Regions from separate parts of the Homo sapiens genome. Here region 2 is linked to region 1. Evidence: fine-mapped expression QTL. Tissue or cell type: whole blood. Region 1 holds a variant in brackets; the other region holds the start of a gene. All regions are shown on one strand. Distances are from middle to middle. Region 1 overlaps WASF1 (WASP family member 1). Region 2 holds the start of WASF1 (WASP family member 1).

Evidence for each region. PIP is the estimated chance that this variant, and not a neighbour inherited with it, causes the effect.
Region 2: it holds the start of WASF1, and the variant in region 1 is fine-mapped to the expression of WASF1 in whole blood (INTERVAL, PIP above 0.99).

Annotation. Positions count from the first base shown.
Region 1 is chr6:110,145,359-110,153,704 of GRCh38, reverse strand. The region is part of intron 3 of WASF1 (WASP family member 1); the gene reads left to right. Among named protein-coding and RNA genes, the nearest start is that of WASF1, 30 kb to the left of the region's middle. The variant TTA/A (reference allele first, on the strand shown) is at 4,219.
Region 2 is chr6:110,175,857-110,184,202 of GRCh38, reverse strand. It overlaps WASF1 (WASP family member 1), which reads left to right and starts at 4,533. Exons shown (of 11, transcript NM_003931.3): 1 at 4,533-4,764; 2 at 5,461-5,605. It overlaps CDC40 (cell division cycle 40), which reads right to left and starts at 3,776. Exons shown (of 15, transcript NM_015891.3): 1 at 3,570-3,776. The coding sequence starts at 3,758. RefSeq lists silencers at 4,504-4,613, 4,854-5,173.

The DNA.
Region 1 (8,346 bases):
CTCGAACTTCTGAGCTCAAGCGATCCTCCCACCTCAGCCTCCCAAAGTGGGATTACAGATGTGAGCCACCTTGTCCAGTCTTGTGTTAGCTTTAAGCAGGATAGAAAAATGCAAATTAAAATTATGAGATACCACTGTACATGCAGTAGATTGACTAAAATTAAAAAGGTTGACAATGCCAAGTTTGGGTGAGGATACAGTGAGAAATCAACATAGATTGATTTAATCTATGGCTTCTTTTAAATATTAGGGCTCTTATTAAATCAGTCTTAAACTTTCTTTTTGGACTCAAAATGTCAGTTTATCATTACATTGTACAGCTAGTTATTTTTATCTGCCATAAGGTCAAACTGGAACAGAAACCAGAACAGTAGATTTGGTTAAACTATTTTGCCATTATTATTTCCTGGCTCCCTATCTTCACCTAGAACTCTGTTGGTGGAAATGTAAAATGGTTAAACTGCTTTGGAAAGCAATTTTGTAGTTTTTTACAAAGCTAAACGTATAACCCAACCGTTCCACTGCTAAGTATTTACCCAAGAAAAACAAAACCATATCCACATAGAGACTTGTATAAAATGTTCATAAGTTACTTTATTTACAATAATCAAAACCGGAATATTACCCAAATTTCCATAAACAAGTGCAACAACATGGATGAATCTCAATCATCTCAATCATTAGGCTGAACAAAAGAAGGCAGACAATAGTTACTACTCTGTGAATCCATTTATATAGAATTCAACAAGCAAATTAATCTATGGTGACAGGTCAGTGGTCCTTGGAAACATGAGGGGAGGAAGGGATTACAAAGGAGAAAATTTGGGGGATGATTGTGATGATTTCACAGTATTAAGCCATGTTAAAACTGTTATAAACCTAATCAAATTTTACACCAGTATGTGCAATGCATTAGTTTTCTATCACTGCTTAACGAATTACCACACATTTAGCAGGCTAAAACATCTCTAGTAATTATCTTATAGTCCTATAAGTCAGAAGTATGAATAGGCTTGGCTGGATTCTCTGCATAGGGACTCAGAAGTCCAAAATCATGGCACTGACGGCTACATTTCTTTTCTGTTGGCTCTGGGGAACAATCACCTTGCAAGCTCATTCAAGTTCCTGGTAGTTGTACAATCTTAAGCTTCTCTTTTAATATCTAACAAGTACAGAGGCAGATTCTATTTTTCCTGATGGATATAATTCTTCATTGTATTGTGAATTGTTTCTGTTGGACTAAGACAAAATCAAAGTTTAGAAGAATTTTGATAATACAGACATATATGAAATAATAACAGAATCCCAACTTAAGGAGAGTAGTTAACCAGAGTAAGTTTTTGTTGGATTTAATATTATTGTTCCTGGTTTCCAGGTTCCTGTCTTCTCCCTGGGTGTCAGAAAAAGGTTTCTAGCTCCTAGAACTGCTTTCAGGTTCCCTCCATCTTTAAGCCAGCAGTAGCTGCCACATCTCCCTCATGCTTCAAATCTTTGCCTCCTTTCTCCGTTGTCAGCTGGAGAAAGCTCTACTTTCAAAGGGCTCATGTGATTAGGTTAAGCCCACCCATATAATCTCCCAATTTTAAGGTCAGCTGATAATTGACCATAATTATATCTTTAAAACCTCTCTTAACATGTAATATAATCATAGGAATAGTGCTAGGGACTGGATATCATGCGGCCATCTTAGAATTCTGCCTGCCACATGCTGTATGTTGTGCTTCACTTATACCTCAATAAAGTTTATATTTTTTTTCTAAAAAGGACAAAAATATATAATAATATGTGCATATAATGGGATGGTTGTGACACCCAAATAAGATGTAAGTTGATTTTTCTCACTGATTTGATTTGGCATAGCATTTCCATGTCCAGTGGGGAAATAGAACTAAGATAATAATATACTTACCACTTTTTCTATATTTTTTAATTTTCTTTCATCTATGATGTTAAGAAACAGTAGAAAGTTGAGGAAGTAGCTAAAAAGTAAACATAATAGAGGTGATTTTGTAAGTTTTTTAAGTTCACTCAAAATTGTGATTAATATTGTGATTTCATGTATGTCTACAAATATAAAGTAGTATTTAAAAATTACTATTACTTTATTAAACTTGTGCAAGAGATGAATGAATGTAAGTGTGCATTTTGTTGATCCTATTGTTTAGACCAATCTTGGAATTCTTGAGTTTATAGAATTCTTATATTACAGAATGTGGGAAATAATTGTTTTTATAACATGTAGGATGCTTTTATCTCCACCTTGTTTATTTCCTAGAAAGCATTCAATCAAGAGTAATACATTTAATATTTTATTATAGTTATTTGTGGCCAAAGATTTTGGAAATTAAAAATTTTAGTAGACTAGATGAAACTTTAGAATGAAATGTGGTTAGTTTTGCTTGGATCCTCAAATTGCTAGTGTGTGATACCAAGTGTTACCAAGAATGTCAAACAGCTGGAACTCTCGTAAGTTGCTGATGGGGGTATAAATTAGTTCAAGCACTTTGAAAACTATTTGACAATAGTTACTAAAGCTGTATGTATGTATGTGTATATATACCCTATGACCCAGTGGTTTACTCTCTCTAGTCATTCCACATTTACTCCATAATACACATTAAAATCTTTTTAAGATCAAATGTTTGTCCTCTTTTACTCTTTTATTTTGAGACAGAGTTTCACTCTTGATGCCCATGCTGGAATGCAATGGCGTGATCTCAGTTCACTGCAACCTTCGCCTCCTGGGTTCAAGTGATTCTCCTGCCTCAGCCTCCCAAGTAGCTGGGATTACAGGCTCGTGCCACCAAGCCTGGCTAATTTTTTGTATTTTTAGTAGAAACGGGGTTTTACCATGTTAGCCAGGCTGGTCTCGAACTCCTGATGTAAGGTGATCTGCCCGCCTCAGCCTCCCAAAGTGCTGTGATTACAGGCGTGAGCCACTGTGCCCAGCCCTTTTACTCCTTTTAAGGAACTTATTTGTTCCTTGTTGACCACCAAAGTTCAAAATCTTCAATTTGATTGCTTTTTTAAAAAATCTTTTATTCCTGCTTCTGTTTTCCTTTCAAGCAAGTGTCCTTATTTTTCCTCTCTTATTCTCAACTTGCTGTTTTACTTGTGATGGACATCAGTGCTGTCCAGTACAACTTTCTGCAGTGAAGGTAGTGTTCTGTAACTACCCTGTCCAGTATGGCTATTGAGCACTTGAAATGTGGCTAGTGTGACTGAGGAACTGATTTTTAAATTATTTACTTCGTTTTAATTTAGCAACTTGTGGCTAGCTGGTTAATTTATTGGACAGAACAGGTCTAAATTACTGTCTTCCTTTAACCTCTTTAGCTGGTTTTGATTTCATTCTCTCTACATGCATAATAATTTACCTTAGTCTACTTTAGACCTTAGCTATATGTTCATTTTTATTGTTTTACATTTTCTGTTACATATTTTTGCTTCCTGATTATTTTGTAAGCTGCTGGGTGGTGAAGCTATTTTACTTCTTTTCTATTCCTTTCACTTTCTATATTTTAACCATAATATGTAATCTGTAAATATTTATTGAAGGAAGTAGTCATCTGGGAATTGAGGAACATTATTTGGAGCTTCAAAATACCATTGAAAATCTTTTAGGGTATTGTGAAATTTGGGAGGCCAATTTGTCGAGAATACAAAATAGACTTAAATACAGTAACAAGGCCAGGTATAGTGGCTCACATCTCTAATAGGAGGCTGAGGCAGGAGGATTGCTTGAGCTCAGGAGTTCGACACCAGCCTGGGCAGGCAAGTTAGGGAGACCCCATCTCTACAAAATAATAATAGTAATAATAAACAGTAACAGATTAAGAGGGTGGGAGGGGGCTGAGGGATAAAAGACTACATACTGGGTACAGTGTACACTGCTCAGGTGATGGGTGTACCATAATCCCAGAAATCACTACCAAATCACTTATCCATGTACCCCAGAAACTTGAAATAAAAAATTAAAATATGTATACTGACAAAAATACAGTAGAGCAAGCAATAGATGCAAAATCTGAAGACAAAATCTAGTCTCATCTCTGCCACTGATTTTGTGAACTTAGAGAAGTTTCTTAGCTTTTTCAGGTAAGTTTGCTAATCTACAAAAATCGGATATGAATTATTTGGTGTTTTAATTTCTCTTCCAGGTTAAGATTCTTTTCTTTTTGTTTTTTTCTTTCTTTCTTTCCTTTTTTTTTTTTTTTT[TTA/A]AGACAGAGTCTTCCTCTTCCATGCTGTCTCCTACAGAAAGAAGATGACATTTCATATGAATTGTGGGGCATTGGAAGGTGAAATGCCAGGAATATTGTGTTTACCCTGGCTCTCTATTCTAGAAGTCAGGTGGACTGAAGTTACAGGGCATAGAGAATGGCAACGATGTAGGCGAACAAAGCAATTAAGTAAATCTAAGATTTATCCTTCAGGCTGAAATAGGTAAAGCGGGCATATGCCATACAGAATAATGAAATGTAAGGAAAAAAATGAAAGGGGGAAAAAAAGGAAAGCCACTAAATGTTCTCTTGCTTTCTCAATTAATTTTGGCTTTAAAACTCATCATTCTCCCACTACCCCTGTCCCAAATACCATTAAATTACTCTCTCCATGAGCCCAGTTACTTGGTTGTACATATTACTAGAGTTAGTCATAAGTCTTTTCCTAATCCCATAGACTTTGTGGATAGGGAGTCATATATTGATATAATTGATCTGCTTTAGAAATAATTTTCAGTTTTTGGCTGACTATAGAAAGTTTCTTAAGCCAAGAACTTGGGCTTCACCCCTTCTGGTGATCTAATTAATTATTAGCCTGTTTCCTTCTACCTCCAGAATATATCTTGAGTTGACATGCTTCTGTATCACTATCACATAGTCCAAGTGACTACCATCTCTGTCTCTGGACTACTTTATTCATCTTCTGTCTGGTCTACCTGCATTTATTCTGCCATTCCCCACTGCCCAAGTCTCCATAGAGCAATTAGAATGAATGGTCATTCCTGATCTTGGCACTCCTTTGCTTAAAACCCTTCAAGGGTTTTCCATTAGGACAACATAGAAAATCGTCAATATGACCTTCAAGGTCCTACCTAATCTGACCCCCTACTAACCCTAGAGTCTCTGATTGCACTTCACCCATGATGGCTTGCTCTCATTATTATTCCCTGTCCACCTTTCATTCTAAGAATGAAAACACACGCACAAGCTTCAGTTTCCCCAGCTTAGCTAGCTTAGCTAATAATCCTTTTGTTCTTAATTTAAATATTACTTCCTTAAGGAGACAGGTCCCCTTTATAGTGTCCCCTACTTTTACTCCATTATACTTATAAGCGTAATTAGATACTAGATTCTAGGAAATACACGGGGGATTGTTTGGTTTTGCTCACCCCTTTATCTTTAGCACTTGGCACACAGTACTTATTTCACTGATGTTCAGTAAATGGTTGGTTAGATGAATGAATGAATGGATGGCAGTGTGTCAGTACTGCCGTTTTTCATATAAAGTACAATGTATTTGATAGGTATATGTTTTTAGAAATACTTGCAATATGAAGAAGACAATCTTGTTTTTCAAGTAGCTTAGTTCTGCATTTGTGGTTTAGATGCCTCAAACTTCAATTTTAACATCTTTTAAACCACTAAAAATAAACTTGGTGGTTGGGTGCAGTGGCTCATGTCTATAATCCTAGCACTTTGAAAGGCTAAGGCAGGAGGATTACTTGAGCCCAGGAGTTTGAGGCCAGCCCGGGCAACATGGCAAAATCTCGTCTCTTCAAAAAATTTAAAAATTAGCCAGGTGTGCTGGCACACCCTGTAGTCCCAGCTACTTGGGAAACTGAGGGTGGGAGGACTGCTTTAGCCAGGGAGGTTGAAGCTGCAGTGAGTTGTGATCACGCCACTGCATTCCAGTTTGGGTGACAGAATAAGACCTTGTCTCAAAAGAAAAATAATACAGTAATAACCTTGGTGCAGTATTATGCTTGTATAATGATTTGTCAAGTAAGTTTCAGTAGTGGTTATATTAATTTAAAGGAAGTACATATTTTCTTTGAGAGTAACATGGAATCACATAAGAAAATACTACTATTTAGTGGATTTTATTACTAAGATGACTATATACAGTCTTCTTTCCACTCTATAGGTGTATAATACTATTGATTATTTCATTAGCATACAGTTTTCTTGACTCTGTCAGAAATGTCAGTGTTATGAATTGCTGAGTATGTAGCTTATTTCTTCATTTCCTTTTTGCTTTAGTTTGCTTAGCAATGTGTTATTTTCGACTTTAGTAGCCTATCAAAATTTAATGCTTTGCTATTGTGACTTCAGGTGACATAATTTTTTTTTTTTTTTTTTGAGACGGAGTCTCGCACTGTTGCCCAGGCTGGAGTGCAGTGGCATGATCTCGGCTCACTGCAAGCTCCGCCTCCCGGGTTCACGCCATTCTCCTGCCTCAGCCTCCCGAGTAGCTGGGACTACAGGCGCCCGCCACCACGCCCGGCTAATTTTTGTATTTTTAGTAGAGATGGGGTTTCACCGTGTTAGCCAGGATGGTCTCGATCTCCTGACCTCGTGATCCACCCTCCTCGGCCTCCCAAAGTGCTGGGATTACAGGTGTGAGCCACCGCGCCTGGCCTCAGGTGACATAATTATTTATATATTTATTTTTGGTAAAGATAGCACTGTTCTTAGGGCAGTTTTTTTTAAACCAAGAGCCAGAGTACCTCAGAGCAAATAACTGGAGATGTTCAGCATGATGACTAGTTCTTTAGTCCTGTGAGTACCTAAATTGGTTTTGTCATTTTCCTATGAATCTCCTTTAGAGATTCATGAGTAGTGAGTAGTTTTAAAGTTTGCTTCTCACAACAAAGAGGAAATTTATGATTTCTATATATTCCTGAGGTGGTTTTACACAAGAAACACAAGCTTCTATTTCACTGGTAAGTGAAGTTATTTTGAACTTCAGTTTTTTAGTTTACAATAATGAAACAGTTTGAGATAATGTGCATTATAGATTTAGGGAAAGGTAAATTATAAAATTCTGTTTCTGATACACTTCTAAACAATAACCTTGCAAATATATTTTATATTAAATCACCGTTTAAAGACCTGTGGTTTTGTATAATTGAAATATGGTTTTAAAGTTAGATATATATATTTTTAAATAAAAAATTAGATATATTTTTAATGTACAGTTCTTCATGCATTCTTATTTTAAATTTTTATATTTAATAATATCTGTCACAATTATAAAGTATTTTGTCATTGGCATGGGAGTTTATTAAGAAAATTATTTCTATGAAGAGCAAAGCTCTATTTAAACATTCTTATACTCAAATTATTTAACTTGCCAATTGTGCAAAATTAAGTGGCTTCTATTCTTAAGAAGGGAGGACATTTCTTAATAAGTATTTGCCCTACCCAAAATTCTTAACATATTTGAAATATTGAAATTGTTTTTATTAGAATACTTATTTTAACCTGTTCCTTTAGGTCACATAATGTAATCCTTTAGTTTGAATAAGTATTTAATACTGTATTGTGAAAAATGAAAATTATATTTTTTGTTATTATACTTTAAGTTTTAGGGTACATGTGCACAACGTGCAGGTTTGTTACATATGTATACGTGTGCCATGTTGGTGTGCTGTACCCATTAACTCGTCATTTAGCATTAGGTATATCTCCTAATGCCATCCCTCCCCCCTCCCCCCACCCCACAACAGTCCCCGGTGTGTGATGTTCCCCTTCCTGTGTCCATGTGTTCTCATTGTTCAATTCCCACCTATGAGTGAGAACATGCAGTGTTTGGTTTTTTTGTCCTTGTTATAGTTTGCTGAGAAATGATGGTTTCCAGCTTCATCCATGTCCCTGCAAAGGACATGAACTCATCATTTTTTATGACTGCATAATATTCCATGGTATATATGTGCCACATTTTCTTAATCCAGCATATAAACAGAACCAAAGACAAAAACCACATGATTATCTCAATAGATGCAGAAAAGGCCTTTGACAAAATTCAGCAACCCTTCATGCTAAAAACTCTCAATAAATTAGGTATTGATGGGATGTATCTCAGAATCATAAGAGCTACCTATGACAAACCCACAGCCAATATCATACTGAATGGACAAAAACTGGAAGCATTCCCTTTGAAAACTGGCACAAGACAGGGATGCCCTCTCTCACTACTCCTATTCAACATAGCGTTGGAAGTTCTGGCCAGGGCAATCAGGCAGGAGAAGGGAATAAAGGGCATTCAATTAGGAAAAGAGGAAGTCAAATTGTCCCTGTTTGCAGATGACATGATTGTATATCTAGAAAACCCCATTGTCTCAGC
Region 2 (8,346 bases), 30 kb before region 1:
CTATCACCTATCAAGCCATATTATTAAGAATGTTCGCACTATAGACAAAAGTTAATTTCATATGGATTAATGACTTAAATGTGAAAAGCTTTCAAGAGATAATACAAGAGAATATTTTCATGACTATGAGTTAAGGATTTCTCAAACAAGCAACAGGAACCCGATACATAAAGGAATAATTTGACAAGCACAGACTACATAAATAATTGTTTGTAAACAACAGGGAAAAGTGAGAAGACAAGTCACAAAAGAAAAAAAATTTGCAACACACACAATTGACAAAGGATAGTATCCAGAATATGTAAAGGTCTTCTAAAAATCAAAAGGAAATGACAACCCAATAGTTGCTTCCAAAGAAAAAAAAATTAAATCACCAATAACATATTAAAAGATACTCAACTGCAGGAAACAGCTCGGAAAAAACATAGATTAAAAACGCTGCAAAAATGTATTCTCTGCCAAAATGCTTGCTATTAATCATAATACAATTAGTCAACTACAGATGAATATATTTGCATGCTTCACATCTCCCTTGGTCATTTTCCAATTTTCCAATCATTTGCAATCATTATATTTACTATGTGTAAGTTTGTTTTCCCTTCATATAAACAAGTGTTGGTTCATAAACCAACAATGAGCAATGCCCTCTACGCTCTCATAGAACCCAGACCACTGGGTGGACTAGCCCCAGCTCTACCTCTAATGGACTTCTGGTACCTTACGCAGCCTTTCCTCCTGGGTTCCCTTATTTATTCGTGATTGCACTAAGTGAGCTCTAGACAAACACCCCCATCCCTGCCACTGCATGTCCAGCTCTAAAATTCTGATTCTTAATGTGCATACTTTTACAAGACTTTCTTTTTCATTCCATTCTCTTACCAAATATACTTCCCTAATCTTGTGTACTAGGCACTGGAGACACAAACGAATGGATACAACAGTCTCTGGACCCCAGGGTCTCACAGTCCAGAGGAAAGAAAAAGATGAACAAGTTACAGCAATGTGCTAAGTGCTATAGTTAAGATATGATAAAGGGGCTAAGGTAAAATAGGAGGAAACATATACACTGAGACTGAAGGACCACAGTGTTTGGAGTGGGGGAAGGAGGCACTAGGCAAGGGATTTCCAGGCAGAAAGACTAGCGTGGGCAAAATCTTCAGAGGAAGAAAGAAAATTCGGCTTTCAGGGCTTTGTAAAGAGTTCAGCATGGGAGAATAGCAGGACTCACATGCTACCAAAAAAACTTAGAAATCACCCATTGGACAACATGGTGTCTTTGGGCAGGGAAGTGATACGATGTAAGTGGAATTTACAAAGATCATTCTAAGTGCACTGTGGAGAAAAGAATGGGGTATAAAACTGGGAGACAAGAAAGGAAGAAGTAGAAAGATCAGTTAGAAGGCTACAACTGTCTGAAGAGAAATGATGAGAATCTGAACTAAACAGTGGCAGCAGAAGAGAGAGATTTGATGAATATCATTGAGTTAAAGTGGACAGAACCCACTACCCAAAAAGGCTGAAAGAGAAAGAAAAGAATAACTCCTGGGAGAAATAAGGAAGATATGAAGCCTGCACCAGTGAAAATAGCAAGGAAGGAGTTGATGTGAGAGAAATTAATGAAACAGCAATGTTAGAATCAATTGAATGACTAGCTTCAGGGGCTGAGGAAGAAGGAAGAGAAAAGGATACCTTCTTTGTTCTCGGCTTCAACTAGTGGGTGGATTGTGGGATGACAGATCAAAATAGGAAAAACAGAAGTGGATTTTGAGGGAAAGAAAATAATTTTTCGACACACTGAATTGGAGGTGGCTGAGCGCCAACCTGCAAAAGACAAATGTACAATTACTGTGGGAGATTTTTATATACCTCTCAAGATCGTAAGCTAGCAAGGAGGATAGAACTGGAAATAAAAGGATAGCAAGCATTTAATTAGTGTTCATTGTGTGTGGCACTGTTAAAAGGGCTTTACATCTTTTATGACAATTATTATAATTCTGTTAGATAGGTACTACTGTTATTCCTACTTTACAGATCAGCAAAAATTAGGTACAGAGCATTTAAGTAACTTATCCAAGGTCCCCAGGTGGGTAAGTGCTGGAGGCAGGATTTGAATTACAGTCTTAATTCCAGAGCCTGTGCTAACCATTTCACGGTGTTCACCTTGAGCTAGAAGCAGCACAGCCTGAGGTTGAAGGTATGGGAGAATATGTGGAATGCAAAGAGGACTAAGAGCAGAGTCCTGGGAAACACCAGTATTGAAAAGGGAGAGTAAAATAATTGGAACAGAATGCTGAGTAGAGCCCCATGGAAGCGAAACGGAGAGAAAGTTTCAAGAAAGAGGAACTAATGAACAGTGTCATTTGATGCAGACATTTAAGTCAGATGGCTGAACTTGACAACTGGAAGGCCTGGGACATCACTCACAGACAGTAGTTTCCCAAGAGGATAGGGCCAGACTGCATTGGGTTGAGGAGAAAATGAGACGAAGACAAAAAGAGAGCTCCAAAAAGCTGAGCTGTGAAAGGAGAAGACTCAGGAGGTTACTGGAGGGGCTTAAGTTTGGAAAGTTTTGTTTTGATAGGAAGTTAGGAGGATTCTAAGCATTCTTTCATGACAGATGTCCATTTTTAAAAAGTAAAATTCACATACAGCTTGTTAAAAACCTGTAAAACACTTCTTAAGTCATTAAACTAGACTTGGGGACATGATACAAAGGAATTTTTGGACACCGCCTCCCCTCTTCACATCTTGAGCTGATCACCTACCTCGGGCTCTACTGGGCCTACACTACCAATTGGTAGATGCTCTCATCAGGCTCCAGACACATCAGCTTTTCCTCAGTTCTTCAAACCCACTAGGCTCTTTGCGTTCTCAGGCTTGCCTGTCACCTCTGCCTGGAAACTCTTGCCTTATTAATCAGCTTCCTCCATTGAGATCATGCAGCTGTTTCTCAAATCCAAGGCCTTTTTCTCACTGTATTAACACACACAATCATAAAACATTTACTGCACTCTCACTAGTTGGCTCTGTGCTATATGCTTTATTTGTGTAATTTCACTCAATTTTCACACTCATCTTTTCATGTAGACAGATGTTTTGAAAATGATCTCCACTGTACAGGTGAGGAAAGAAAGGAGGCTGCATAACTTGTCCAAGTTCACACAAGTGGTGGTGCCAGGATTAGAACCTAGTTCTTCAAAAATAAGACAAATCGAGGCCACTGCTCACACAATACTCTAGTTTGGGAAGTCCTGATCTAATTTCACTTATGTTCCGAGATTACACCTGCACTTTCCAGGCTATGTCCCTAATCCACAAATTCAAATTTCATCCCCTCCTTCCACTTGCTTTCTGATGGCGGGAGGCAAGGGCAGAGAGCATCGGAGGGCTATTCCGAACTTCCAATTCTGCCTCTCCCGAGGATGCATGTGGGAAGGAGAAGAAATTCAAACGTTAGCAACTTATCTCTGAGCACTGAGAAAGAGGTAACCCGGTACCTAACAAGCGGCTGGCAGTTCTGGAGCTGAAGCCAACAATTCCCACACTGCATTAGTAGCAAAAGTGCTTACCTTAACTGCCACCTCCGGAGCCGAGTCCACTGCCACTGCTAGAGACGGCTTTGATGAAGGCGATTTAGTCAAGTGCATGAGGGAGTCGGCGGCTGGCAGCGGACACCGACTGCTCTCACTGTCCGAGTCCGATTCGGACCCTGAACCCGAACCATAGGAAGCGGCCAGAGCTGCAATCGCAGCCGACATGACGGCAACAAATCTTCTGCGGAGACCCTGCCAGGGCGGAAGAAGAAGAGGCTCCCAGGTCCTGACAGATTGCAATGGAACACATCATTAACTTTCTTTGCTAAGAAATAATGTCTTACATTTTGAAACAATAAGCTAATTATTATTAGAATAACTACTGTCGAGCTGAGAGCTTAAAAAAGTTTATCTAGGGAAAAAGGGAGAATTATAATAGTTTATAACATTTAGGACCTAGTTGACTAAAGAATATGAGTTCCAAAATACCTTGAGGCCTCGCGGTCCTGCACTCCCAGCGTGCAGCGCGGCAGGAAGCGCGAGAGGGCACAATGGGAAGTGTAGTTTGCAACGAGGGGGCGGAACGGGGGCGTGTCCCCCTTTGACCCCGCCCCCGAATGGATGTTCCATTCAATTGGCTATCATCTTCCCTCATTCCCTAGCCAAGCAGTGTTCTCTTCGTCCCCCTCCCCCAAACTGAGGATTGGGCAATACCACAGAACCTCAGGAAAGGGGGGAAGAGCGAGCTTCGGCCCCACTAATGGGGGAGTGGGCGGAGGCTGGATTTCCCACCTCGGCTGCACCTGGGCACTGGAGGCTGAAGAGGAAAGTGAGAATCTGAAGTTTTGAGACCTCTGACTGGCCAGGAATAGCTCCTGGGGCGGGGGGCAAGGATGGGACCATAGGCGGAAAGAGTCTCGCGGTCCCCCCTGCTTCTGGCGCGGGTCCCTGCGCCCGGTTGTGGAGCGTCTCGCGCGGGGAGGGGGCGGGGGGAACGGCAGCTCGCGGTGTTGTTCACTCGCGCGTCGAGCACACGGTGGGTCCGGCGGCGGGTTGGCGCCCCAGGCGGCGTTCCCTGTGGCCTGGCGCCTGGGCCGCTGCCCTGAGCGGGTTCCGCCCCAGAGCCCGACCCTCCTGGGGGCTCTAGGCGGAGTCCCGCGAGCCGAGGGGGACCGGCGACCGCTGCCGAAGCATGAAGAAGGGGTAAGGCGTGAGCCCCCAAGATTTCACGGTGAGCGCGAGTCCCTGAGGAATTGCTTTTTTCGGGGAGGGGGTGTTGGGAGAGGAACTCTTCCTTACTGGCCGGAGCAGACCGAGTGGTGTGTGGCCCGCAAAGGTGACGGGGATGGATGGGCGCGCCTTCCCCGCCCCGGCCCCCACCCCCATCCGCGGGTTTTCCGAGCGCCCACCGCCCACCCGCCAGCGGGGCTGGGTGCCGAGGGAGACGGCGGCGGGCGCGCCTGGGGCTTGGCTGCAGGGACCGCCCCGGGGCTGCTCTCGCTGGAGAGACTGTGGGTGTCACCTGAGGTGCCACCGCCCGGGCTTCCCTGCCCACCCGCGCCCGCGGTCCGCCCCGTGCCTCTTTCCGGGGGAGGCGGTAGCCCCGGGCGACAGAGAATCCCCTGCTCGCCCTACGTGCGCGAGGCTCGGTAAAGCGAGCTCGTGCGTTTGCGTGTTTGCTCCGCGAGTCGGTGTCTGAAAACATAACGGTAAAGCGAGTGCGGGCATCCTTTTCTTCGTTGGAAGGGGAGGCGAAGCGGTGCTGTCGCTTCTGGTGCCTGTTCATGGGGGCTGCCTTGGGCAGAGTTACGGAGCCGCTCACTCAGCGCTCATGTCGGCAGGACTCGCCCATTGTGCCACCCAGATAATTATTCAACTATGCAGCATCCATTGCACCTTTCCCATTTTTCTTTTCCCCTTGCTACAGCATGCCCCCTAGCTTCGGTACTCTGACACCTTCTCTTGCACTTGCGGATGATGAACTGGAATAACGATGAAAGAAAGCACATCCGATCTCAACATTCACGTCCTGCCCTATAACCGATTAATTAATTGATCCCCAGCTAGACTAGGTACTTAAATACGACTTACTCTAATCATTTCCTTTTCTATGTAATAAGATGTGCGGTGGATTCGACTTAAATTTTTTCTTTGGTGTTAGATTCACGATTAGCTAAGGTCTTTTTTCTGTTCACTAATTGATGTAATTGACTTATTGGTTATTCAATCCGTCTAATGTTCTTAAATTTAAATTTGCATGGTAGGTAACATTCATTTTTCTGATTGTTCATAGCATTATATCATAATTAGAAATGCAGTCTCAATTTGAACTCTCAGGAACAGTTTATCCTTTATGCTCTAAGTTTCTGTTAGGAAACATTTTTGTTTATATTGAATATTTGAATGAAGTATTTGATATAAAATTTCGGAAGTTTTGAATAAGAAAAGTTTTGTATTTGTTTTTCGGTAGCAGAATATGTCATTACTAATCGTTGCCTTCCATTGAATGGAAGGATTTAATATTTAAGATGAGGATTTTAACCATCATATCAGTCATTCCCTAATTTATCTGATTTTATTTTTTATTCACTTTTTTCTTTGCAATATCATGTATTTAATTACTTGTTTTAGAATCCAGTTTTTTTTTTTCTAACTTGAATCTACAAGTATGAGTAGGCTTCAGTTTTGCGTGATCTACCTGAAGGATGAAATTTTTTTTTTTTTGCAAATATAAGAAACCACTGTTGGTTACTTGATTTTTATGTTAAAAACTGTTTACATCTCATTATTTAAAAATAAATGATTCACTATAAAAAGTAAGTGTTGTATTTTTATAATTTTCCTTTTCCATCTTTCCTTGTTTAAGCTTGTTGCATTTACCCTTTTGATAAAAGAGAATCACATAAGCATTGCAGAGGCAGTTTTAAGGTATAGTAATTGTTTTATGGCACTTGGAAGTGGCGTACATATAATATAAGTTGATGGTGTAGGATTAGTTGCTTGGTTAGGAAATGACCTTGCAATTTACAAAATGGACACCTTTGTGCCTTGGTTTCCTTATATGTAAATGGAGATAATATTTAGTAGGTAGTGTGCATAAATTCAGGAAAGGTGTGTTTTTGTAGTCCTTTTAAAGAAAATTTAAATCTTTTAGCTGATGAATGATTAAAAAATTTCTGTGAAAAATACAATGAAAAAATGTCAGGATTTTCCATGGCATATTAGAATGGCTGATTAACATTGATTTTTGCTTTGGAGAGGTATGCCTCTGAACTGAAAAATGTTTCTCATCTATCAAGGGTTTTAAATAATTGCAGACATAAAGGTTATTACAGTTAATACCTACATATAGTTAAACATATAGATAAAATAGTTAATAGTAAACAAAAATTATGACTTGATAATAAGTAGAATATTGAATTAAGTTAGTGAAGAATAATATATTCGAAAAATATTAAGGCCCTTTTTGTTACAAATTTGCAGGTGTTACAATCCAAAATACATAGTTGTGATCATTTATAAGGTATGCTATAGAGTTACTTTATTACTCATGTTTGTAAATATTCATATATTCAGAGACAGTTTTAATATTGTATAAGACTATATTTAATTATACATTTTGCTTTATTTTAGGAATAACTTAAGATATCTTTTCCAAGTGTTGGATTTTCATTATCACAGTACATAGTACCTTGTGATTTCCTTATTGGACTACTATCAAAAGATTATGTTATTAGCACTTTTACCAAAACAGTGCTTTTGGTTACTTTGTGAGAAAACTTCATATAGATAAGACTATTAAAGTGTGTTTAAAGTTACTATTGTATGGTTTCGTTTTTGAGAATTTGTTTTATAATGTTTTCTTAAATGAATTAAAATTTAGCTGACACCGTCACTTGGGTAAATGCAGTAAAGTCGTGGTTTTTCTTAGTTCTTTGAGGAGAGAAACTGACCTGCAGCTTATTGTCATAAATCCAAAGTTGTTAGTATAGTGTTTAACAAATAGCAGGGGCTCAATTTTCTTTGTTGAACAAATAAAATGAATGGGTAAAGAATATCCATTGAATTAATATATTTAGTGAAACATTTTTAAAGATTTATCAAACATTATAATTAATGAAATGTATAACTTTATCTCAGGAGAAAAGAGAAAAATGAATTTCAAGGTTCTTTGAACTCCATTTACCTGCTCAGATATAATTCCATTACCTGTACACTTTTGAACTGGCACTAGATACTTAATAATGTATATGTTAGTAGTCTTTGATTTATGAAATATTAACAATTTTCTTCTTATAGCTCACTTTATGAAGATGTATGTTAACATATTTTTTGTTTTTCCTACACTAGATAGAAGTGTGTTTGATTCTTTGTGACTTACGTTTTCTAGTGAAATAGTAATAAAAAAGATATATGTAAATTAAATCCTATGCTGAATGCTTGAGTACCTAGTTGTTAAAAATAAATGACCCCTGAAGTGGAACTTTTTATAAAATTAAGAATCTTGTGTTTTAAGTTTATCACATTCAGCTTATAATTTTGAGTCTTTGTGAATTGGTAGTTCTAACTTACTACACAATTGATTACATTTTACAACTTGTAAAATGGTTTGGAACTTGAGTCTTATTTTCTCAGAAACAGTATACTTAGTGGTTAGAGTCACAGACAGCCCACTAAAGCCTATTTAAATAATAAAATACCTGAATTATAGGATTATGTTAATACTAAAGAAATTATAAAATTATGTTAATAATTAGCATAAGTATATTAAAATACCTATAATAATTTGTATGACAGTCTTTCTATGGGAAAA